Homo sapiens: one gene and its partners. The protein of the gene in region 1 interacts with the protein of each later gene in a pairwise test. Each region holds a gene or a part of one and is shown on either strand. Other genes may lie near its edges.

Region 1 (3,500 bases):
TGTCACCCAGGATGGAGTGCAGTGATGCGGTCATGGCTTATGCAGCCTTGACCTCCCAGGATCAAGCAATCCTCCCACCTCAGCCTCCTCAGTAGCTGGGACTGCAGGTGTACACGGTTGCACTCAGCCTAGGTTAGATTTTTGAACAAAAATATGTGGAGAGTGTGAAAATGAAGTGAGATACCTAGTAGCCAACCTGGGTTCACTCTACCAAGTCTTGGAGAAAACAACTCTAACTTGGGTGGAGGAATGTTCAGTAAGCCTTTTCAGTCTAATGATCTTCTTGGTACAAGAGAAAGCAGTGTGGTCTGGCTGATACAGCAGGGAGATGGATGTGTGACTGCTTGACCCACTACGCTGGATGCTGACTCCTAACTCCTGAGCTTGTGTTACTGTGAAGAGGTCCCCGTGATGTGCCGCAGGGCTGTCTTTGGCTTAGTCCTCTATGTTTTCCATAGATACGAGCCTCTCCCAGGAGCCTGTGTGGCCTGTGTCTTCTGTTTCTCATTTCTTTTTCTTTCTTTTTTTTTTTTTGAGATGGGTCTTGCTCTGTCACCAGGCTGGAGTGCAGTGGCGTGATCTTGGCTCACTGCAACCTCTGCCTCCTGGGTTCAAGCAATTCTCATGCCTCAGCCTCCCAAGTAGCTGGGATTACAAGCACACGCCACCATGCCCAGCTAATTTTTTTGTATTTTTAGTAGAAACAGGGTTTCACCATATTGGTCAGACTGGTTTCGAACTCCTGACCTTGTGATCTGCCCGCCTTGACCTCCCAGAGTGTTGGTATTACAGGTGTGAGCCACCATGCCCGGCGTATTTCTTTTTTTTGAGATGGAGTCTCGCCCTATTGCCTAGGCCGGAGTACAGTGGTGCGATCTCGGCTCACTGCAACCTCCGCCTCCTGGGTTCAAGCGATTCTCCTGCCTCAGCTTCCTGAGTAGCTGGGATTACAGGCACCTGCCACCACGCCTGGCTAATTTTTGTATTTTTAGTAGAAATGTGGTTTCACCATGCTGGCCAGGCTGGTCTTGAACTCCCGACCTCAGGCGATCCACCTGCCTTGGCCTCCCAAAGTGCTGGGATTACAGGAGTGAACCACCGCACCTGACCCTGTTTCTCGTTTTTATGGGCGTTGAGGGTAGCAAACATTGGCTGATAGAACCAGGGTTCAAAATCATCTCAGTTGACTGGAATGCTGCCATTAAGTAGAAAGATGAAGTTTAAAAATATTTCTCTCTTAAAATTAATATATGTACATTGTAGGAACCCTGGAAAATAAAGAAAGGCATAAAGGAAAAAAATGATACATAATACTATAATTCGGGTGGGCTGGTATTTCGGTGAATGTCCTTCCAAATTTGTGTTCATGCAAATCTATATATTTTAACATAATTGCAATTATACTCTATCCCGTTTTTTTCCCTACTGAATGCTATCTAATGGGTAATAGTGCATGTCATAAAAAATACTTAAAACCATAATTTTAAGGATCCAAGTAACATTGCATTCTATGACTATACTATATTTAACTATGCCCTACTGACTTTAAAACATTGTTTTTAGTTTTTAGCTTTTAAAAATTACTTGACATTGAGCAATGTTGAACATATACTTATCTCAAGAAGAAATGTAATAGGTCTAAGTGTAACATCCTGCATTTAAGTTCAAAGCATCAATTATGTAAGTCTAGAATAGAGTGGGACTTACTCTTCATTCATGTTGAGGGAAAAGGCTTGGGGTTTTGGGCTGAAAAACGAAGGAAGAGGGAAATGAACATTTTAATGCCTGTTAGGTGCTAGACCATTATTCTAGACATTTCTGCCTTCATCATCTCATTTCATCCTCTCAGCCCTGTGAGAAAGGTTTGGTTTGTTTTTGTTTTGTTTTTCAACCTCTACTTTACAGAGGGGACACTGTAGAAGTTATACTGCAGTTGGAGTTTGGACCCAGGTCAATCTGACTCTCAAACTGCCCCATTAAACCATAAGCCTGTGTGGGCCAGTGCTGTGGTAAGGTCTGTGTCAAGGGAAACCTTTACTCACTAAGCTCTGTGACCCTCTGGCCACATTGGAAGCCACATCTGGTTTTGGAAAGTTTATATATCCTGAGCTGTTAAGTATTGAGCTCGCCATTTTTGTGGGTCTTCCTCTACCCCCAACCAGTGATCTGATCTCAAACATGTGGGTCTTTTTTTTTTTTTTTTTTTTGAGACGGAGTTTCGCTCTTGTTGCTCAGGTTGGAGTGCAATGGCGTGATCTCGACTCACCGCAGCCTCCACCTTCCGGGTTCAAGCGATTCTCCTGCCACAGCCTCCTGAGTAGCTGGAATTACGGGCATTTGCCACCATGCCTGGCTAATTTTGTATTTTTAGTAAAGATAGGGTTTTTCCATGTTGGCCAGGCTGGTCTCGAACTCCCGACCTCAGGTGATCTGCCCACCTCGGCCTCCCAAAGTGCTGGGATTACAGGTGTGAGCCACCGCGCCCGGCCTTTTTTTTTTTTTTTTTTTTTTTTTTTGTGAGACAGGGTCTTAACTCTGTCACCCAGGCTAGAGTGCAGCGTTGCAATCACAGCTCACTGTGGCCTCAACCTCCCGCGCCCAAGTGATCCTCCCACCTCAGCTTTCTCAGCTACTCAGGTCTCAGTAGCTGGGACCACAGGTGATGCCATGCCCGCCTAACATTTTTTTTGTTTTAATTTTTATTTTTCATAGAGACAGGATCTTGCTGTGTTTCCCAGGCTGGTGTTTTTTTTGTTTTGTTTTGTTTTAATAGATAGGATCTTGCTCTGTTGCCCAGGCTGGAGTGCAGTGGTGTGATCATAGCTCACTGTAGCCTCAAACTCCTGCACTCAGATGGTCCTCCTGCCTCAGTCTCCCAAGTAGCTGGGATGACAGGTTTGTGCCACCATGCCCTGCCAATTTTTAAAACTTTTTGTAGAAACAAGGTCTTGCTATCTTTATTTTGCCCAGGCTGGTCTTAAACTCCTCGCCTCAAGCGATCCTCCAGCTTCAGCCTCCCAAAGTGCTGGGATTACAGGTATGAGCCACTGTGCTGGGCCTGTGAGTGTCTTAACAGAGGCTGGATGAGGACTTAGAACCTGCCCAGCATCTGGGTGCTGTCATTTCTCATTTCTAGAAGGTAGGCACCCTTTACAGCAGTAGCAGGTTAGGTCCATCTGACCTGAAGTCTATTACTTCATTATGTAAAACCACATAAAACTAGTGGGCCCTCTGTATCTGTAGGTTCCACATGGATTCGACCCACCCTGGATCGACAGTGTTCAGGGGAAAACATTCCACAGAGTTCCAGAAAGCAAAACTTGAATTTGCTGCTCACTGAATGCTGCATTGAATCCATGCAAATGAAGTGATGTGCATGCGTTGTGTTAGGTATGATAAGTTCTCTAGAAATGATTTAAAGCACATGGGAGGATGTGCGTAAGTTATGTGCAAACACTGTACCGTTTTATATGAGGGACTTGAGCATCCTCGGGTTTCAG
Region 2 (3,500 bases), on another chromosome or scaffold:
CTTTATCCTCTGGGATCCAGAGTGTCCTCTGCAGGGATGCTTTTGTAGGTGGCCCCTGTTCTCTCGCCTTCCCCCAACACATAGACACCCCTGGACGTGGGACCTGCTTTGCTAGAGTCTAGCTGCACCCTCTCTAACTTCTCTCCTCCTCCCTCCTCCATTGATAAAAACAGATTTACCTCTCAGTCTTGTCTGCCATTCAGTGATAGTATCACTCACATTGGTAAGACTCGGTAAGTGTTAGAATTAAATTAGTCATCACGGTAACCCTGTGCATTAGGGAAGTCAAGATGCTTTCAACCTTACTCTATACATAAAGATTCTAGCTCTGGAATCTGCCACAAGTTTTGAGTAATGAAGTATAAACTAAGAAGGTCCCTTGAATTGTGTAGAATAGAACAGCACTGTGAGCTGCGGGTGTCCTGGTGACTGCTCTGAGCTTGTAACTCAGGCTGATCTTAAAGGCACAAAGAGAAATAGGTCGGCCTCAGTGCCTCAGTGTATTAACCTTGTAACAAGTGCCAGGCAGGAATGTGTTCAAGAGCTGCAGGGTTGCACTGCCCTTAAATGGGGCTGGTGGAATGGTCTCTTCAACAGTACATATCAAGGAACAAAAGGGAAAGAGAGCCTATAGGTTAAGATATTTAAGAGACATAGCAACCATATACAACATGTAGACTTTGTTTGAAGCCTAATTTGAATGGACTGACCAGAAAGTAATTAAACAAATATATATGTGTGTATATAAATGTGCATATATAAGTACATATATGTTTCTATAAAAGAATAAGAGTTAATCGTTTAGGTATGACAATGTGACAATGACATTATGGTTATGTTTTTTTTTTTTTTTCGAGACAAAGTGTTGCTCTGTTGCCCAGGCTGGAGTGCAGTGGCTCAATCACTGCTCATTGCAGCCTCAACTAACTTCCCCAGGCTCAGGTGATCCTCCCATCTCGGCCTCTGGGACTAAAGGCGTGTGCTATCATGCCCAGATAATTTTTATTATTTTTTTGTAGAGATGGGGTCTTACTATGTTGCCCAGGCTGGTCTCAAACTCCTGGGCTCAAGCGATCTGTCCACTTCAGCTTCCCAGAGTGTTGGGATTATAGGCGTGAGCCACTGCACCTGGCACAATTATGCTTTTTTTTTTTTTTTTGAGATGGAGTTTTGCTGTTGTTGCCCAGGCTGGAGTGCAGTGGTGCAATCTTGGCTCACTGCAACCTGCGCCTCCCAGGTTCAAGTGATTCTCCTGCCTCAGCCTCCCAAGTAGCTGGGATTACAGGCAGGCACCACCACGCCTGGCTAATTTTGTATTTTTAGTACAGACGGGATTTCACCATGTTGGCCAGGCTGGTTTTGAACCCCTGACCTCAGGTGATCCACCTGCCTCAGCTTCCCAAAGTGCTGGGATTATAGGCGTGAGCCACTTTGCCTGGTCACAATTATGCTTTTTAAAAATATGTCATCTTCTAAAGATTACGGTTAGATGTTTTTGAGTCAAAGGATGAATTAGTATTAAAATAATCTACTATGGCGAGCGGTGATATAAATGAAAACAAAATTAGTTACGAGTTGGTCAAAGCTTGGTGTTTGGCACATGAGGGTTTATTACACTATTATTTTCACTTTGGTATGTTTACATTTTTCTGTAATAAAAAGGTTTTTAAAAATTCTCTTGGCGGCCGGGCATGGTGGCTCATGCCTGTAATCCCAGCACTTTGGGAGGCCGAGGCAGGTGGATCACAAGATCAAGAGATCAAGACTGTCCTGGCCAAGATGGTGAAACCCCACCTCTACTAAAAATACAAAAATTAGCTGGGCGTGGTGGTGTGTGCCTGTAGTCCCAGCTACTTGGGAGGCTGAGGCAGGAGAATCACTTGAACCCGGGAGGTGGAGGTTGCAGTGAGCCGAGATCACACCCCTGCACTCCAGCCTGGGTGACAGAGCAAGACTCCATCTCAAAAAAAAAAAAAGAAAAGAAAAGAAAATTCTCTTGACCAGGCACAGTGGCTCACGCATGTAATCCTAGCACTTTGGGAGGCCAAGAGGGGCTGATCACCTGAGGTCAGGAGTTCTAGACCAGCCTGGCCAACATGATGAAACCCTGTTTCTACTAAAAATACAAAAATTAGCCAGGCGTGGTAGTGGGCACCTGTAATCCCAGCTACTTGGGAGGCTGAGGCAGGAGAATCGCTTGAACCTGGGAGGCAGAGGTTGCAGTGAGCCAAGATCGTGCCACTGCACTACAGACTGGGCAATACAGCAAGATTCTGTCTCAAAAAAAGAAAATTCCTCTTGAAGTAGCCAAAGAATTCTTGGCTAAAAATAAATAAATAAATAAATATCCTCTTGAAGGAACTAGGGAGGGAAGTAACTGAAGAGACATTGTGTTTGCTGTGTTTGACAGAGTCTGCAGAAGGCTACAGATGTGAAAGATGTGGGAAGGTATTTACCTACAAATATTACAGAGATAAGCACCTCAAGTACACCCCCTGTGTGGACAAGGGCGATAGGAAATTTCCCTGTTCTCTCTGCAAACGATCCTTTGAGAAGCGGGACCGGCTTCGGATCCACATTCTTCATGTTCATGAGAAGCACCGGCCTCACAAGGTGAGTATTAGGAGGACACATGACCCACCATCACGTTCTCTCTCCCTTCCCAAGCTCCTGAACACGGGGAGTTGCCTTGTAGGTGCTAGCTGCAGGGCTGTGATGCCTGACGGACACCCTCTCTGAAGGAGGAGAGGATAGTATTACGGAACAGGCAGGCGTGAATAGGCACAGCGATGCACATGTGTTAGGATGCAGGTACCCACAGAGGGAGGAACATGGAGGAAGGAGTGTCCACGGCCACCTGGACACGTGGATTATGAAAGATGCACAGAGGTGGCCTTGAGCCAAGTATAGAAGGACAAATGGGGTGTCTGATTTATACTGGTGGCAGGGTTAGTTGGGCAGGAAAGAGTCGAGCTGTTCCAGACAGGAGAGAGCCTGGCATGTGCTCCTGGGGAACTGCGCCTTGTTCCAAATCTGTGCAGGTGTGTTGACAGGTATAGGTAAGAAGGAAGTGAAGGCACGGTCCTTCCAAGGAGCGGAAGGCCTCTACAGTGGGCCGAGGATTTTGTAAGACAGAAAATCAGTAATGACATTACGGAGCCATTCCAAATACCTGGATGCTCTGCTAGGCTTGCTGCAAAAAAGTACAATATTCCCTTGGGCTTAATTAAAAGGAGGACGAGGCTTGGGCACAGATGTATTCTTGCTTGACTGTTGGCCTTGTCGGAACTACCTCAGGCAGCTACGACCTTGAGCCCATTTTCCTGTTTTGAAAACTGAGAATAAAATCATCATAAAATTGTCCTAATTTCTCCCTTCCTTCCTAAGCTTCTGGAAAAGTCATGTTTAATCACTATATTATATACTCCTATAAAATTTGAATACATTTACAGTTATCATGCATTTGTGTAATTCTAAAAGGATTTAAAAATATCAGGACG
Region 3 (2,461 bases), on another chromosome or scaffold:
CAGCTGGGACCTGCAGCCAGAACTTGCAGCTCCACAGGGAACTCCGGGACCCTTGGGTGTGGAGAGGAGAGGGTCTGGGAAGGTTATAAACCAGGTATCTCTACATCAGGATGGCCATCTAGGAGGCGCTGGGCCTCCTGGGCACTGCCTGGTGGCTGATAGGACTTCAGAGGCTCTGCCCCTTTGTTGGCAGGGAGGCTTCCAGCCTGAGAGCACTCCCAGTTTGGATGCTGGACTTGCAGAGCTGGCTCCTCTGCAAGGACAAGGGTTAGAAAAGCAAGTCCTGGGATTGCAGAAAGGACAACAAACAGGGGGTCGTGGAGTGCTTCCTCAAGGGAAGGAGCCTTTAGCAGTGCCCTGGGAAGGCTCTTCAGGAGCCATGTGGGGAGATGACAGAGGTACCCCCATGGCTCAGAGTTATGATCAGAATCCTTCCCCTAGAGCAGCTGGGGAGAGGGACGATGTCTGTCTCAGCCCAGGAGTTTGGCTGAGCAGTGAGATGGATGCTGTAGGCTTGGAGCTGCCTGTACAAATAGAGGAGGTCATAGAGAGCTTCCAAGTTGAGAAGTGTGTAACTGAGTATCAGGAAGGCTGCCAGGGACTGGGCTCCAGGGGCAACATTTCCCTGGGTCCTGGAGAAACCCTAGTACCTGGGGATACGGAGAGCAGTGTGATTCCCTGTGGAGGCACAGTTGCGGCAGCTGCCCTAGAAAAGAGAAACTATTGCAGCTTGCCAGGACCTTTGAGGGCCAACAGCCCACCCTTGAGGTCCAAAGAAAATCAAGAACAGAGCTGTGAAACCGTAGGGCATCCCAGTGATCTGTGGGCAGAAGGTTGCTTCCCATTGCTAGAAAGTGGTGATTCCACACTGGGGTCTTCCAAAGAAACCCTTCCACCCACATGCCAAGGCAATCTCCTTATCATGGGGACTGAGGATGCCTCCTCCTTGCCTGAAGCCAGTCAAGAGGCAGGGAGCAGAGGCAATTCCTTTTCTCCTCTGTTGGAAACCATAGAACCTGTCAACATACTAGATGTTAAAGATGACTGTGGCCTCCAACTAAGGGTCAGCGAGGACACCTGCCCACTGAATGTTCATTCTTATGACCCCCAAGGAGAAGGCAGGGTGGATCCTGATCTGTCCAAGCCTAAAAACCTTGCTCCTTTACAAGAGAGTCAGGAGTCTTACACAACTGGGACTCCCAAAGCAACATCTTCTCACCAGGGCCTTGGAAGCACTTTGCCTAGAAGGGGAACCAGGAATGCCATAGTTCCGAGAGAAACTTCTGTTAGTAAAACACACAGGTCAGCAGACAGGGCCAAAGGAAAGGAGAAAAAGAAAAAGGAAGCAGAGGAAGAGGATGAGGAACTCTCCAACTTTGCTTACCTCTTGGCCTCTAAACTTAGCCTCTCACCAAGGGAGCATCCCCTCAGTCCTCACCATGCCTCAGGAGGTCAGGGCAGCCAGAGAGCATCCCACCTGCTCCCTGCTGGAGCAAAAGGCCCCAGCAAACTTCCATATCCTGTTGCCAAGTCTGGGAAGCGAGCTCTAGCTGGAGGTCCAGCCCCTACTGAAAAGACACCCCACTCAGGAGCTCAACTTGGGGTCCCCAGGGAGAAACCCCTAGCTCTGGGAGTAGTTCGACCCTCACAGCCTCGTAAAAGGCGGTGTGACAGTTTTGTCACGGGCAGAAGGAAGAAACGACGTCGTAGCCAGTAGGGAGCAGCGGGACCATCTGACCCCACTTGCCAGTCCCTAAAGGTGGGTGCCCCAGAGTAGATTCCACCCCTGCTGCCCACCAATGGAGAATCCCAATGTTGAATCTCATCCCAATGTTGTTTTGTTGTTCTGCAAAAGTGGCAAGCATGGAGAGAGAGGTCAGACTGGCTAGGCTGCAGGGGGAATTACCTTTGGAAGGAGCTATATAGAAAAAAAATGAATAAAGTGTTTTGTTGGAAAATGCTCTCAGAGTGCCCTTTTTCTGTACTCGTGTCTTTGCTGCTAGATAGGGTTAAGATGCTATGAAGAAAGGCTGTAGGGGTAGTCTTAGATTCTACAAATCCATAAATCTTGTCTCCAGCCTTATCTTGGCTCCCTGCAGCCTCCTCCTGGCAACAGACTGGCTCTCAGGCTGTGATAAGTCTCCAAACTGAGGAATCTCCAATGATCACATTATACATCCCCTCTTCACAAGCCTGGACTTGGTGTCAGGAAGGCTTATCTGGGCATCTTATAATTATCTGCCTCCCTTGAAGTCTATAGATAGAAAGATGCTTTTCTACCTGTTAGATCTCTGAGATAGAGATCTAATTTTCTTTCTTCTTTTTTTGAGACAGGGTCTCGTTCTGTAGCCTAAGCTACAGAGTGCAGTGGCATAACGATGGCTTATTGCAGCCTCAACCTCCTGGGCTTAGACAATCCTCCCAGCTTAGCCTCCCAAGTAGCTGGGACTACAGGTGTGCA
Region 4 (3,500 bases), on another chromosome or scaffold:
GCTGGGCTCGGTGGCTCATGCCTGTAATCCCAGCACTTTGGGAGGCCGAGACAGGTGGATCATCTGAGGTCAGGAGTCCGAGACCAGCCTGGCTAACATGGTGAAATCCCATCTCTACTAAAAATACAAAAATTAGCTGGGTGTGGTGGCAGGCACCTGTAATCCCAGCTACTCAGGAGGCTGAGGTGGGAGAATCACTTGACCCAGGAGGCAGAGGTTGCAGTGAGCCGTGATCACGCCATTGCACTCCAGCCTTGGTGACAAGAGCAAAATTCCGTCTCAAAAAAAAAAAAAAAAAAAAAGACTTGAATCCTGGCTGGGCATGGTGGCTCACACCTGTAATCTCAGCACTTTGGGAGGCCGAGGCAGAAGGATTGCTTGAGCCCAGGAGTTTGAGACCAGCCTGGGCAATATAAGGAGACCTCGTCTCTACAAAAAATACAAAAATTAGCTTCTACAAGAACAAAAAAATTAGCCAGGTGTGGTGGCACATGCCTGTAGTCCCAGCTACTCGGGAGGCTGAGATGGGAGGGTCACTTGAGCCCAGAGGTCGAGGCTGCAGTGAGCTGTCACTGCACTCCAGCCTGGTCAACAGACTGAGACTCTGTCCATATAAAAATAAATACTTTAATCCTAAACGTTGACACATCTATTTTAGACAGCATATATTGATATGTTGGTTCAAGTCGTCTTTTAAAAGTCAAAGGTAGGCCGGGCGTGGTGGCTCACGCCTCTAATCCCAGCACTTTGGGAGGCCGAGGCCAGCGGATCATGAGGTCAGGAGATTGAGACCATCCTGCTTAACACGGTGAAACTCCATCTCTACTAAAAATACAAAAAATTAGCCGGGCGTGGTGGCGGACACCTGTAGTCCCAGCTACTCAGGAGGCTGAGGCAGGAGAATGGTGTGAACCCAGGAGGCGGAGCTGGCAGTGAGGTGAGATGGCGCCACTGCACTCCAGCCTGGGTGACAAAGCGAGACTCCATCTCAAAAAAAAAAAAAAGTCAAACGTATAAAGTATGAAGGAACCTCTGTGTTTATCTATTCAAGATTACCATATAGTACAGAATCAGCTGTAGATATTCTTAGATTTTGTAGTACTGTTAAAATACAATATTATAAAAATGGTATATGGAAAAATACTCTAATCCTACTAATTTATTTTTATCTTTTGTTTTTCTTCTAATCTTTGTTCTAGTACAGACAACTTTGAATTCTGCTTTTTATGTTTTACACTTGTATATGTGAGCATTTATCATGTTGCTGCCTAGTCTATACTACATAGTATTTTTATTTTTATTTTTATTTTATTTTTATTTTTTGAGATGGGGTTTCACTCTTGTTGCCCAGGCTGGAGATTATTCTTAAACTATGTTAAATACACTATAACTCTAATACTTATTTAATTAATTTTGTTTAATTACATAGTATTTTATAAAGTTGTTAAACCAAGATTTAACTATTTCTTTATTGTTCAACATATTTTATTATTTTCTAATTTTGTCCAATTAGAAATTAAATGGTAGAGTAAATTGCTGAATGCATTGAACATAAAACAGGCATAAATACAGACTCATTTTAATTTAAAAAATTAAAACAAAAAAAGTCCAGGCTTGGTGGCTCACGCCTATAATCCCAGCACTTTGGCAGACAGAGGTGAGCGGATGGCCTGAGGTCAGGAGTTTGAGACTAACCTGGCCAACATGGTGAAACCTTGTCTCTACTAAAATACAAAAATTAGCTGGGCATGGTGGCAGGTGCCTATAATGCCAGTTACCTGGGAGGCTGAGGCACAAGAATTGCTACAACCTGGGAGGCGGAGGTTGCAGTGAGCTGAGATTGCGCCATTGCACTCCAGCCCTCAATAAAACCAAAAGGACACTTTTATTCCTAGCAAAACCTAATAGTCTGGAGAACATGTTCCATGGAGCACACTTTGGAAAATGCTGATACAGAAACAATTTTAGAGCTCTGAAGAACCAAAAATCTAGTCCCCTAAATTGACAATTGAAGAAAATAGTATTCAAATTCAATAAACATTGATTTGGCTACCATAGTTGATTTCAAATATATCAGTGGTGCCCAAAAATGTCCCAATAAAGTAGTTATGCTTAAACCCCTGTTAAGAAATAAAACAGGCTCTAAGAAGTTAAATGACTTACCCAAGATCAAAAAGTGGCAAGTGGTGAAGTGAGATTTGAACCCAGACCTCTCGAGTCAGTGCCTTCTCCGTTAACACATCCTGCTGCTTCCCTGGTCATCAACCCTGAATACATTAAACTGGTTGGATAGTTTAGTGACTTCAAATATTTTCACTTTCTTGGAAGTAATGTGTTTCAAAAGTGAAGTTTAATTTGTATGGTATTTCATGTTACCTTACTATCAGCATATAAAAAGTGGGAGAATAGGCCAGGCGGGGTGGCTCATGCCTGTAATCCCAGCACTTTGGGAGACCGAGGCAGGCAGATCATGAGGTCAGGAGATCGAGACCATCCTGGCTAACGCGGTGAAACCCCATCTCTACTAAAAATACAAAAAATTAGCCGGGCGTGGTGGCGGGCACCTGTAGTCCCAACCGCTCAGGAGGCTGAGGCAGGAGACTGGCATGAACCCGGGAGGCGGAGCTTGCAGTGAGCCGAGATCTCGCCAGGGCACTCCAGCCTGGGCGACAGAGCAAGACGCTGTCTCAAAAAAAAAAAAAAAAAAGTGGGAGAATATACAGTCAGCAGTCCCTGAAGTTACATTTTATTTTATTTATTTTTAGAGACAGGGTCTTGCTCTGTTGACCAGACTAGAGTGCAGTGGCGTGATCACAGCTCACTGCAGCCTTGACTTCCCACCTCAGGCTCCCGTGTAGCTTGGGACTACAGGTGTGCACCACCATGCCCAGCAGTTTTCTTTTTTTCCTTTTTTTGTAGACATGAGGTCTCACTGTGTTGCCCAGGCTGGTCTGAACTACTAGGCTCAAGCAGTCCTCCTTCTTTGGCCTCACAAAGTTCAGGGATTACAGACATGAGCCACCATTCCCAGCCTGAAGTTAAGTTTAAGAAACAGTAGGCAGGGATAAAAAACAAACAAAACAACAACAAAACCTCATTATATTCAACTCTGAATAGCAGGAAGGCGTACCCATGATGCCTGAATTTATGTGGTGCATTGAAAAATATTCTTAGCTAACTCTACAATTGCTTACTCTTTCCTTTTACAGCTTTTCCCCCTTATATTGACCAATTCCATTTTCTTCTCTGCTGCCTGCCTAATCCTGACCACACCCTTCTTAACACAGGCCAGAGGTTGCCCTTAACAAGCAGGAGTCTACTGCACTAGAGGTAAAACACAGCCTCTCAAGGGATTATTCTTTGATTCAATAAATATCTTCTTATCTACCTTGACAAAATAGGTAAATCTCCTTTTTAAGGAAATAATCTTGTAAAAGAACCAAGATGATTTTATAAAAATCTGGGAAAAAGTGGATCCAGAATCTGTTAGATGTTGCTCA
Region 5 (3,500 bases), on another chromosome or scaffold:
CTGTGTTCCCATAAAGCTTTATTTACAAAATCAGGCAGCCAGCCTGTGGGCCATTATCAGGCAACCCTGATAATGAAATTAATAATGATAAGGTAACATTTATTAAGTACTTACTGTGCGCCAGATACTGTGTTCACTCTACTGTGTTGGGTGCTTTAATAGTTATTTCTTTGTCTTCTCAACAACTCTTTGGTAGATACTTTTGTTATTCCCAGTGTCCAAGAAGAAACAGGCTAAGCAGTTAAATAATGTGCCGAGATCTCATTGCTTACAAGTGGTGGAACTAGAAACTCGAAAATTAGGCTGTTTAAGCCCAAATCCTAACCTATATACCAGGTTCACTTTCACCACTTACGTGTATAGAATGCATTAGAGTTTTAGATGCTTAAGCATGTATGGTAAGAATTAATTTTATGTGTTCATGTTTGTAGCTATGGACATTTTGAATTATGTCGGGAGAGCTGATGGAAAAAGAGGCTCCTGGAGGACTGGTAAAACTGAAGCCAGGTAAAGTCCAGTTTAAATTGATAAATGTAATCAGACTTCCTTCTATCCTGCATTTTCATACTGACAGTTTCTTTCTCAGGAATGAAGATGAAATGTATAAAATTCTCTTGAATGATTATGAATATCGTCAGAAACAAATCCTAATGGAAAATGCAGAACTTAAGAAGGTTCTTCAACAAATGAAAAAGGAAATGATTTCTCTTCTTTCTCCCCAAAAGAAGAAACCTAGAGAAAGAGTAGATGATAGTACAGGAACTGTAAGTGGCTCTTTCCTCTCTAATACAGTCTTCAGATTGCTAATAAGAATAATTAAAATATGTGGTAGGCATTCTCAATGGGGACACTATTGGTATTTTGAATAGGACACTCAACTGCTATGCTACTTTCAATTACTGTGACAACTGAAAAGACTGTTCCTATGTGTTTTCAGACATTTCCTGAAAAATGCTGGAGATGATTTTCCGGGGAATTAATACATGTCAAGCACTGTTAAGAAGTGCTTTATAAGCATTGTCTCATTTTATAATATTCCTCATAACATATGAGATTATTTCATATATTATAATTTGATGATTTAGATACTATAAATATCCCCATTTTATAGATAAGGAAACTAAGGCATAATATTTAGTAGCCCAGTATCACACATGACAGTGCTAGGATTTGAATCCAAGTTTCTCACTCCAGAGCTCACAATCATAACCACTATGTCAAATATCCTTTCAGTTGTTTTAGTATTATGTACTCTACTTTTCACAGAGTGAAACTTCTGTTAACTTTGGGAAACAAATATAAATTTATTGGGTGTTCTTTATGTTCTAGTCTCTGGAAAGGAAAGGCTAAAAAGATTTTGACTTTTTCCCTCAAGAAGCTCTTTTTGGGAAAGACAGACGTGGAGAAGTGATTATTACATGTGTTAGGTGCTGTAATAAGGTGGTACAATGTGCAGAACAGAATAGTTATGGCAATCAAGGCATCACAGAGAAAGTGACATTTTCACTGCTTCTTAGAAAATAAGTATTTTTGAGGTTAAAAAAAAAAACATGGAGAAAGCATTCCAGAGAATGGGAGTAATATATGCAGAGATCTGAAAAAAAAATCACATAATGGTGAAAAGTTCATTTTACTTAATTGCTTTACGTATAAGTTAAAATCGTAGGTTTCAGCAAGTTCACATTAGTGATAAAAATCTGAAAATAATGTTGATGGAAAATGCTAGTTAACAGCAAGATACCAGAACTTGTTTTTTAAACCTGTATTTGAGGATTATTTATTTTGTGGTATCACAAATCAGTCCAGCTGATAAGCCCATCCCAGCACTTACCTTTTTTTCTCCTTAACATTTAAAAAAAAAAATTACCTAAATTTTTTTTTTTTTTTTTTTTTTAAGAGACGGAGTCTTGCTCTGTTGCCAGGCTGGAGCGCAGTGGCACAATCTCGACTCGCTGCAACCTCTGCCTCCCGAGTTCAAGTGATTCCTCTGCCTCAACCTCCTGAGTAGCTGGGACTATAGGCAGCCGCCACCATGCCCGGCTAATTTTTTTTTTTTTTTTTTTTTTGTATTTTAGTAGAGACGGGGTTTTACCATGTTAGCCAGGATGGTCTCAATCTCCTGACCTCGTGATCCGCCTGCCTCAGCCTCCCAAAGTGCTAGGATTACAGGCGTCAGCCACTGCGTCTGGCCTTTTTGAGAGAGAGTTTTGCTCTTGTTGCCCAGGCTGGAGTCCAGTGGCACCATCTCACCTCACTGCAATCTCTGCCTCTCGGGTTCAAGCAATTCTCCTGCCTCAGCCTCCAGAGTAGCTGGGATTACAGGCATGCACCACCACCCACGGCCAATTTTGTATTTTTAGTAGAGACGGGGTTTCTCCATGTTGGTCAGGCTGGTCTCAAATTCCCGAATATCTTTTACATTCTCCATTTTGAGGCCTGCTTGACCTCTTATATGTAGTTAACCTCTTATCTCAAACTCTGTCACTTCTAGTCAGTTCTTAGCATTCACTAATACTTCTTCAAGGTTAGCATAGTGTCCATTACTACTGCAGCATCTTCAGTTTTTGGTCCAACCTTAACGTCTCATCATCAGATTTCAGTTAGCAAAAGTATGTGGTAAGTCAGGGAGATCTTTCTTCAGTGATTAAACCCTCCTCACCCCCATTACTCAGCCAGTGGGTAGTATCCTGTATAATTCTTCATAATTCACATGTTTAAGTGGATGAACAATGACCTCTTAAATATATATTCTAGTTTTAAAAGATCCATTTTTCTAGCTCCCTTTTCTCTTTAATTTTTGTAGGGAAAGATTTTTGAAGCATTATAGCAAGAGAAATAAGATGTAATGTTGGAATGCCTAGGTAGCATCCACATTTCATTTATTATTTGACCTACTTACTTGTAAAACATATACCGAAAATTCAGGTAAAATGAGTTTGTTGTTTTGTTTTTTGGTTTTTTAGAGGCAGGGTCTTGTTGCCCAGGCTGGTCTCGAACTCCTGGGCTTAAACAGTCATCCCACCTTGGCCTCACAAAGTGTTGGGATTACAGACATGAGCCACTGTGCCCAGCCGAATTTTTTATTTTCATTTTGTGGTTAGAGAGTTCTGTTCAATCTGAGAAATGTGCAATAATTATTCATTTTTCTTTCTTTTTTTTTTTTTTGAGATGGAGTCTCACTCTGTCGCCAGGCTAGAGTGCTGTGGTGACATCTCAGCTCACTGCAACCTCTGCCTCCCGGGTTCAAGTGATTCTCCTGCCTCAGCCTCCTGAGTAGCTGGAAGTACAGGCATGCACCACCACGCCCAACTAATTTTTGTATTTTTAGTAGAGACAGGGTTTCACCATGTTGGACAGGATGGTTTCGATCTCTTGACCTCATGATCCACCCACCTCTGCCTCCCAAAGTGCTGGGATTACATACAGGCATGAGCCACCGCGCCCGGCCAATAATTTTTCTAACAGATTGGTAGTATTCTAATAGGCTTTAAAATGTTCAG
Region 6 (3,500 bases), on another chromosome or scaffold:
TAATAATCATTAATAATGATTTAAAATGTGTACATTGATTTTTTTTAAATTCCAAAATACAAGCGTATATGGTAAATTAAGTCAAATGGTATGTTCAGTGAGCGAGATGGGCTTGGGGCAAAACAATACTTTGCTTCCAAAGAGGATACAACTCTCAAGGAGATTCTTTCATCTTGCCTTTAAGGTCATTTAAACTAATTCACATAATCTTCAGAAAACTAATTCACATCATCTATTCATGTGTAAAATCAAAAGGAAGACTGTTTTCTTAGTCTCTCGTTGCCTAACTGGCCATTTATACTACTAGGTTGATTAAGGGATTTGCCTTTTTCTGCTGATATGGGAACAAAAAGTCTTAAGCATTTTTAAAGGCAATGGAAAATTCAGCCACATGGGGGAAAATTGATATTGTCACCATTGAGTTGCTCTGTTTCTTGGTGAAGAGTGAATCTAATCTGATTTCCTTCTTCATCAGATATGCCTCTTTAACAACAAAAACAAAAAAATGGGGGGAAGTTGCACATTGAGTTCTCATCCTCTGAAGCTCCTGGGCAAAAGCATTATTGTGGACCGTGTGATGGGCATTCGTCAGCTCTTTGGAGACCTATATGCTTAGTAGAGTATCAGGTTTAACACTAAGCATCGCCCCTTTTTTGTTCCTCTTGAAAACTTTTACTTCTGCAACATTTAAGAAATCATAACTCGCTTTTAGAGTTCCTACGGGCTTGGTTGCTACTCTAAAGAATGTGTGAACTATATTGCTGGTGTTCTTTCTTTCCAAAATATGAATTTGATATTCAGTACTTCACTTGTAAAATTTTAGGAACAACTTTTAAAAAATAAGTATCCAGAATATTTTCATGTGAAACAACTTTTCCTTTTCCTTTTGTTCTTTCTTTCCTATAAGAAAACGCTGTTTTACGCTAATCATGTTTTGAGTAGACCCTTGGGCTTTTTCTCTTGAAATTGGAAAGTTAACAGGTATAATATGCAAGTCTTGTTCAGCCAAGACCTTCAGTTTGTTCTTGACAGTAGGAAAATGCTTATTTTCCAGGCTCAGCCCTGAAATTTCTATGTTATATTTACGAAGATACTTTAAGAAATACAGCATGTGTTTCTGGCTTTCTTTGAAATGGCAGTGGTAGTTTTCAGAAAAATATCCAATTTGTCAGAGTAGTTCCACAGTGGTGCTGTCCAGATGCATGAATGTTTTTCAGCTTTACAGAAATGTCAGTAACCGGGGGTTTGGCGAGCTTGCCGGGATTTATAGAAAGGCTCAGGAACCCTACCTTGCTAGGACTTTGTCAGAAGGGTTATGCCAGCTCCTCTGACTCTGTCAGCAAGAAAATACTGATATAGAATAGCACCAATACTTACCTAGAATCACATGTGCTGGAGGGTCACTCAAAATAGACATCTCAAATTATCTGAAGCACGGTACAGATTGAGAGGGGGCAAGTTGTCATGCCACTAAACCACTGTTTATTTGTTGGGGTCTTAACTATTAAAGGGCTGAGGTTTATTTCAACTTCCTATTTTACCAGGTCTTAAACTGGTAAAGCCATTTTGTCATGAAATAGAATAGAAAGCCATTTTGTCATGAGTAGACCCTTGGGCTACACGTTTCTCCCAGTCAGGACACCATCATTAACTTCTACGATCGAGTCTTAGAATTCTTTTTTAATTTATTTCAAAAGATAGAACAGGGCAGATTCTAGAGCTAGTGGTACCGATGCCTGTTCAGTCACAACTCCCACCTAGAGATGGGTTTGGGCAACCCGAGTGAGTGATTTTAAAATTTCACCCCTGATTGACCAAATATGATGTATCACATTTAAGGTGTCGTAATTTCCTCCTTTCTGGGAATATGAGGATGGAGTAATAGATGCTGGTACAGAAAACTGAAACCTAGATAAACTAGGAAGCCCATTTTGTTGTTCTTCTGCATGCTGGTTGTCATAAGCATGTAGGAAGAAGATTTAACTCTTTAACTGGACCAGTTGTGAGCTATTTTGACGTGGGTCAGACATTTGTACATATTATTCCATTCCCTCAACAATCCTGTGGTATCATTTATAGACAGAGAAATCGAAATTCAGAGGTTAAAAATTGCCCAGTATCTCAAAGATTGTAAGTGATGAACTTGGACGCAAACCCAGACCTTCCTTGCTACAAAGCCAGTGCAAGTGGGATGGCCGTTCCCTGGGCGTGCACTCTTGGGTCAAGGATCGATTTACTACAGGGCTGACCAGTGTCGAGAAGAATCCCAATCACCAAAGGAGGGATGGAAAAAGTGTTGGGCTATCCACTCACTTGGCATTCTTGTATTGAACATGTTCTATTATAATTAGATGTTGATAATAAGAAGAATTTTGGGGCCAGGCTGTGTGGTGGGCACCTTAATAAACTGTCTCCTTTGGTACATGTGCATTTGTTTATAAAGTTTGGGAGAAAAGAAAACTCAGAATAATGAATCTCTAAATAAGAGTGAAAGAGGGGGTATATGAGCAGGGAGAAGGCTTACCAGCCACTCTGTTTACTTTATTGGGGCCATTGCCTTCCTACTTTTGAAGTTCATTGGGACCAAGTGCTTATCATCCAAACCCAGTCAACATCTAATCCACTTTTATGAGTATGCGTGCCTCACTTTGAGTGTTCCATATGGCCAAGAGGGGTCCCTGACCTCTCAAATCATCTCTTGATTTTTAGTATTCCAAGTAACTTCTGTCTTGCTAATTATTTTCCCCCAAAATTAAAGTTACTTAGGAAGGACTATATTCTGGTGCTGCTGTCTGCAAAACTCTGAGATACTGAAATGACCCTGTTTCTCAGTTGTATAGAGTTATTTAAGTCCGTCTGATTCTCTCTTTATCATCTGGATAGACAAAAGGAAGAAAACCTTTCCACCTTCCTGTAGGAGAAGGAGATAAATCCTCTTTCCAGCCTTGGAGGTAAAATATCCAACTGCATTGCATTGCTTTCCTTTCTCTCTCCCTCTCCTTCCCTCTCTTCCTTACTCTTCTAGCAATTTGAAGTTTGAAAACAAAGGGAGTAGGGACTATTTGATTACCTTGAAAGTGGAGGCTACAATCAAACACCAGAAATCCTCATATGTGAATCTATAAATGGTCATTTAATGGTTACACAAAGTAACATATTCAGAATGTGAGAAATTAATTTATATAATAGGCTATAAACATGACAGGTGAATGATTTCATTTAAAAATAGCTTTTAACAAGGTGTAGTAGGGTATGAGAGCCTTTCCAGGTCTATAGCATTATAATCTTACCCCGACAACAAGCCTGAATCAGGTGTTCACAGGAATAAATAAAAATAATTAAAGGAAAGAAGGGAGAGAGAGAGAAGAAATGAAAACCAGTGGGATGACTGCAGAGATTCACTGCAGGGCTTGATCTTAGTGATGAAATATTTCTTCTGTAGACTGCATATGTTCTGAACTTTCCCCTTATGCTTGTAAATATGTAGGCCAGCACACCCA
Region 7 (4,151 bases), on another chromosome or scaffold:
GGGTCAGTTAGGCCACCCTGCTGCTTTAGAATGAAAAGGTAGATGGCATAGCAAGGTTTGGCTGACTAGAAGAATGTTTCACATTCAGAAAGAGGCCTCCCTTATTGGGCAGTATATTCCTACTGCAGTGCTCAGAGTATTAAAGAGGGCATTGCTCAGGTCCTGTGGGAGGACTTGTGCATTGGGCCAGATTAGTTCCTGTAGAAGTGTTTACTTCTTTCTCGGTATGTGCAAAACTCTACTTAAGTGTGGTTTTCTCCTTAAAAATCTCTTGTTCTAAGGTTCTATTATAATTTTTATTTTGTCACTTTTTATATTGGCAGATAATTTGGCTTCAGTTTGACTGTTTCAGTCCATTTCATTTTTAAAAAACTTTTATTTAATTATATATAAAACATGGTTGCCTTCTATTAGTATAGAGTATTAAATAAGACTGTGATCTGCAGTTTTGTAATGTGTAATCAGATCATTCTCTTTCAGAGTGACAGCATTTTTGCTTTAAATTCATCATAGCATTGTGTAAAAGTAAAAATGCCAAAAATTAAACATGAAATCAAAATGGAGTATATTCAAAGTATTTTCTTAATTTTTATATATTATAGGAGATGAGAATGAATATGGAAAATCTAGTTAGGAATGAAGATATTCTACATTCAGAGGTGAGAAGAAAAAGTCATTCTATGTTATGTGAAATGAATTGAGTATCCTAGAATGTAAAGCTTAATTTTGATGCATAAGTAGCTAAATTTTTAGCAAGTATATTATCAAAACTGATAGTCCATGTATATTTTCCGGTGATAACAAGTCACAAATAATGTGCTTTGAAGCAAAATCTCACAATAGGTAAAAATTGGACATTCAGTTTGTGTTTGGATTTTTAAAAACTAGGCTCTCTTGAGATATTGAAGCTATTTACCACATAATTACTTACAATTATTTTAAATTTCTGCAGGTATTTTTAAAAAAAGTTCTAGTATTTATTACCAGAATTGTAGCTTTGCATTCTAGGATACTCAATTCATTACCAGAATTCTCTTGTCATTAACAGAAATTGGTTAATTCCACTAATTAATAATGTTGAATTTTAATGTTATAAATCAGAAAATTTTTAATCAAAATTGAAAGAAAAGTAATGTATTAATTTTGAAATCATTTAAAAGTAAAAATCAATTTTTTGATTGTAGGAAGCAACACTAGACTCAGGCAAAACACTAGCTGAAATCAGCGATCGTTATGGAGCACCTAACTTGAGCAGAGTGGAAGAACTTGATGAACCAATGTTTTCTGATGTCAGTATCAGTGTGTTTTGTGAAAAAACTCGTTTTTGTTTTTGTTTTTGATTTTTTTTACTTAGGTAAAGCCTAGGGAAAATGAGGCTAGGCCAGGATTGGTTGGCAAATAGGCCTTTTGCTTCAGAGAAAGAAAATCAGTTCCCTGGTTGCGGATTATATTCCTAATTGGCATTCTGCCCTTTTGTGAAGTGTGTCACTGGCTTATCTATATCTCCGTATCTGTGACTTCAAAACCTCTTCAAAATATGTTTTAAAATCATTTTGTGAAATATATAATCTTTAAATTTGGTGTGGGGGGCACGATTTTTGTTCTCAGTAGCAAACCCTGGAACCAAATTAATGCCTTAATGAGAATGCATGCTTCTCCAGTATGTAAGTACATTTGTTTATTTAAGAAACATGCCACATCTTCCATATGCCAGGCACTGTGCCTGATGCTGTGGTGAATAAGGCAGATGGCTTTGACCTTATGGAGTTTATTGTCAGGGGAGAAACAGACAATTAGATGAACATTTAATAGTCATGGTTAGTGGGACCACATAATTTATTGTCCAAACCAGTATGCTTTTGAGAATGAGAGCCGGATCAGCAGATGTAAGCCAGGACTGTCCTGGAAGAAGGGTACATTTTGGTCACTTTAATTGGTGTACACGGACAAGGGGGGACAGCCAGCACAGTTGAGGAACCTCAGTCAGGGAAGGAAGCTAATGATTTGCTACTCACTGGTGGCATGGGAGGCTGAGGATAGTGCTCCAGGCAGAGAGCATGGAAGGTGTGAAGACCCAGATAGGAGAGCGTGTAGAGGGAGTGAGGCAGGGAGGGGTGAGAGCTGAGGCCAGGGAGAAAGCAGGGGCCAGACCATGAAAGCACTTGTCATTTCTGTTCAGAGGCTTAGATTTTATCCTGAAGGCAGTGGAGACTCATATGATGAGAGCTACATTTTGCAAAGACCATCTGGTAACAGTGTGGGGAAGAAAATGGAGAAGTAGGTGTCAGGAGATGGCTTAGGAGGTAGTAATCTAGGGGACAAGATGTCGATGGCCTGAAGTAAATGTTGTTTTCAAGAGCTGTTCAGAAAATGGAGCTGCACAGACTCAGTGCTAATTGTTTAAAGTTTTATTAAAGGTCAGCTATGATTTGGCACTATGCAGGGAGCTAGAAAATGCCAATGAACAAAATGGATTGGGCTTCTGCCCTTGGGGGCCGTGGGCCAATGGGGAAGCTTCTTTGAGGGACAGAGTAGGGAGAGACCTGACCTGGGCTGGACAAGTCTTCCTCAGGAGGTGAAGTTCAAGGAATTAGCCTGAGATGAGCCCAGAGGAAAGAGACAGCAAAATGCTTTCAAGGGACTGAAGTCATCCAGTATTAATGGCTAACGTCCATGGAGCTAGGAAAATGGTGTGATTTTAAGCTGGAGAGGTGGATAAAGGCAGAGCACACTGGGTCTTGTATGTTGCCTTAGGGATTTTGGACTTAAGTGCAGTAGGAGTTATTGAAAGGACTTAAAGATTCAATCTGTGTTTTTATAAGGTGGAGAGAGGATTGGTGTGGAGCAGGAGTGGAAAAAGGGAGACCACTTAGGAAGTTATTGCACTGATCCAGATGTAAGATGACTAGGGTTAGACAGCAGAGATGGAGGGAACTGAGTGGATTTAAGATTGGCTTACAGGATCAGTGCGGGGCAGGGTCAGGATGAAGCCTAAATGTCTTCCTTGGGCTACTGAGTTAAGAGTGTTAACATTTGATGAGTTGATGAACATAAGAGGAAGCAGGTTTTTAAAAAATGATGGCTTCAGTTGCAGAGATGTTGACTCTCAGGTGGCTCTGAGATATGCAGGTGAAAACAGCCAAGAACAGTTGATGTTAGGAAGGGGCCCAGGCCGGAGATATAAATTCAGCAGTCATGGGCATATGTGCTGAATGAAGCAAGGGGATTGAGTAAGGTACCTAGGAGAGAGTGCAGTGTGTGAAGGCCTGGGGGCTCAGGGAGGAACCATTAGCAATTCTAACATTGAAGGGATGGCCACAGGAAGAGGAGCCTACAAGAAGGATGAGAATGCATAGTAAGAGAAGTAGAAGAAAGGATGGAACAATAACTACTTTGAGAACATAATTTATGGTTATATTCAATTTGAGTATCATTTGAAATCATCTGAAACTCCCAAAAAGTTTCATTCATGTAGTCACATAGAAGTTACCTAAAGTTTATTTCTTTGGCTTGTGCCTTTTCACAGTTCTAATTGTATTAAGGAATATTTACTTTTTGTTTTGCTTTTAGATTGCATTAAACATTGATCAAGATTTGTAGGACCAACCAACCTAAGAGCAATAAATGTTTTTGTTTGTTTCAAATTTCAAACCATGAGGTTCCCAATTTGTATTTTTTTCCTTCAAACTTGAACTCCCCTTTTTTTTTCCTCTAAGGACTGCTTATGAATGGGCTTCAAGAGTAGCCTCAAATTATTATTTTGGATCCTTCAGTTCAACTGGTTATTTATACATTTCCATTGGGAAAATAGGAGAGTTTGCTGAAGCAACCAAAAGAGGCAAATGGGAGGTGAGCTGAACTAATATGTGCGTCTATGCAAGAGCAAGACTGCCTGAGAGGACAGTTGCTGGCTGGGTGCAGTGGCTCACACCTGTAATCCAGCGATTTGGGAGGCCAAGGCAGGTGGATCACTTGAGGTCAGGAGTTTGAGACCAGTGTGGCCAACATGGTGAAACCCCGTCTCTACTAAAAATACAAAAGAAAATTAGCCGGGCGTGGTGGTGGGCATCTGTAATCCCAGCTACTTAGGAGGCTGAGGCAGGAGAATCACTGGAACCCAGGAAGCAGAGGTTGCAGTGAGCCAAGATCAT

The links.
Region 2: the proteins of TEAD4 (region 1) and PRDM14 interact in binary tests that used the Homo sapiens proteins (3 or more experiments, as listed by UniProt).
Region 3: the proteins of TEAD4 (region 1) and NUTM1 interact in a two-hybrid assay, tested with the Homo sapiens proteins (one large-scale study listed by BioGRID).
Region 4: the proteins of TEAD4 (region 1) and CCDC125 interact in binary tests that used the Homo sapiens proteins (3 or more experiments, as listed by UniProt).
Region 5: the proteins of TEAD4 (region 1) and SSX2IP interact in a two-hybrid assay, tested with the Homo sapiens proteins (2 studies listed by BioGRID).
Region 6: the proteins of TEAD4 (region 1) and RUNX1 interact in binary tests that used the Homo sapiens proteins (3 or more experiments, as listed by UniProt).
Region 7: the proteins of TEAD4 (region 1) and DYDC1 interact in binary tests that used the Homo sapiens proteins (3 or more experiments, as listed by UniProt).

The regions. Positions count from the first base shown.
Region 1 is NC_000012.12:2,965,897-2,969,396, forward strand, and holds part of TEAD4 (transcriptional enhancer factor TEF-3), read left to right. Parts: intron 1-3,500. UniProt on the Homo sapiens protein: Transcription factor which plays a key role in the Hippo signaling pathway, a pathway involved in organ size control and tumor suppression by restricting proliferation and promoting apoptosis.
Region 2 is NC_000008.11:70,057,753-70,061,252, reverse strand, and holds part of PRDM14 (PR domain zinc finger protein 14), read left to right. Parts: intron 1-2,410; coding exon 2,411-2,613; intron 2,614-3,500. UniProt on the Homo sapiens protein: Transcription factor that has both positive and negative roles on transcription. Required for the maintenance of embryonic stem cell identity and the reacquisition of pluripotency in somatic cells.
Region 3 is NC_000015.10:34,355,775-34,358,235, forward strand, and holds the end of NUTM1 (NUT family member 1), read left to right. Parts: coding exon 1-1,717; 3' UTR 1,718-1,961; downstream 1,962-2,461. UniProt on the Homo sapiens protein: Plays a role in the regulation of proliferation. Regulates TERT expression by modulating SP1 binding to TERT promoter binding sites.
Region 4 is NC_000005.10:69,326,302-69,329,801, reverse strand, and holds part of CCDC125 (coiled-coil domain-containing protein 125), read left to right. Parts: intron 1-3,500. UniProt on the Homo sapiens protein: May be involved in the regulation of cell migration.
Region 5 is NC_000001.11:84,659,462-84,662,961, reverse strand, and holds part of SSX2IP (afadin- and alpha-actinin-binding protein), read left to right. Parts: intron 1-431; coding exon 432-507; intron 508-586; coding exon 587-764; intron 765-3,500. UniProt on the Homo sapiens protein: Belongs to an adhesion system, which plays a role in the organization of homotypic, interneuronal and heterotypic cell-cell adherens junctions (AJs).
Region 6 is NC_000021.9:34,829,303-34,832,802, reverse strand, and holds part of RUNX1 (runt-related transcription factor 1), read left to right. Parts: intron 1-3,500.
Region 7 is NC_000010.11:80,335,605-80,339,755, reverse strand, and holds the end of DYDC1 (DPY30 domain-containing protein 1), read left to right. Parts: intron 1-602; coding exon 603-659; intron 660-1,184; coding exon 1,185-1,289; coding exon of another isoform or gene 1,290-1,340; exon of another isoform or gene 1,341-3,570; coding exon 3,571-3,600; 3' UTR 3,601-3,651; downstream 3,652-4,151. UniProt on the Homo sapiens protein: Functions as part of axonemal radial spoke complexes that play an important part in the motility of sperm and cilia. Plays a crucial role during acrosome biogenesis.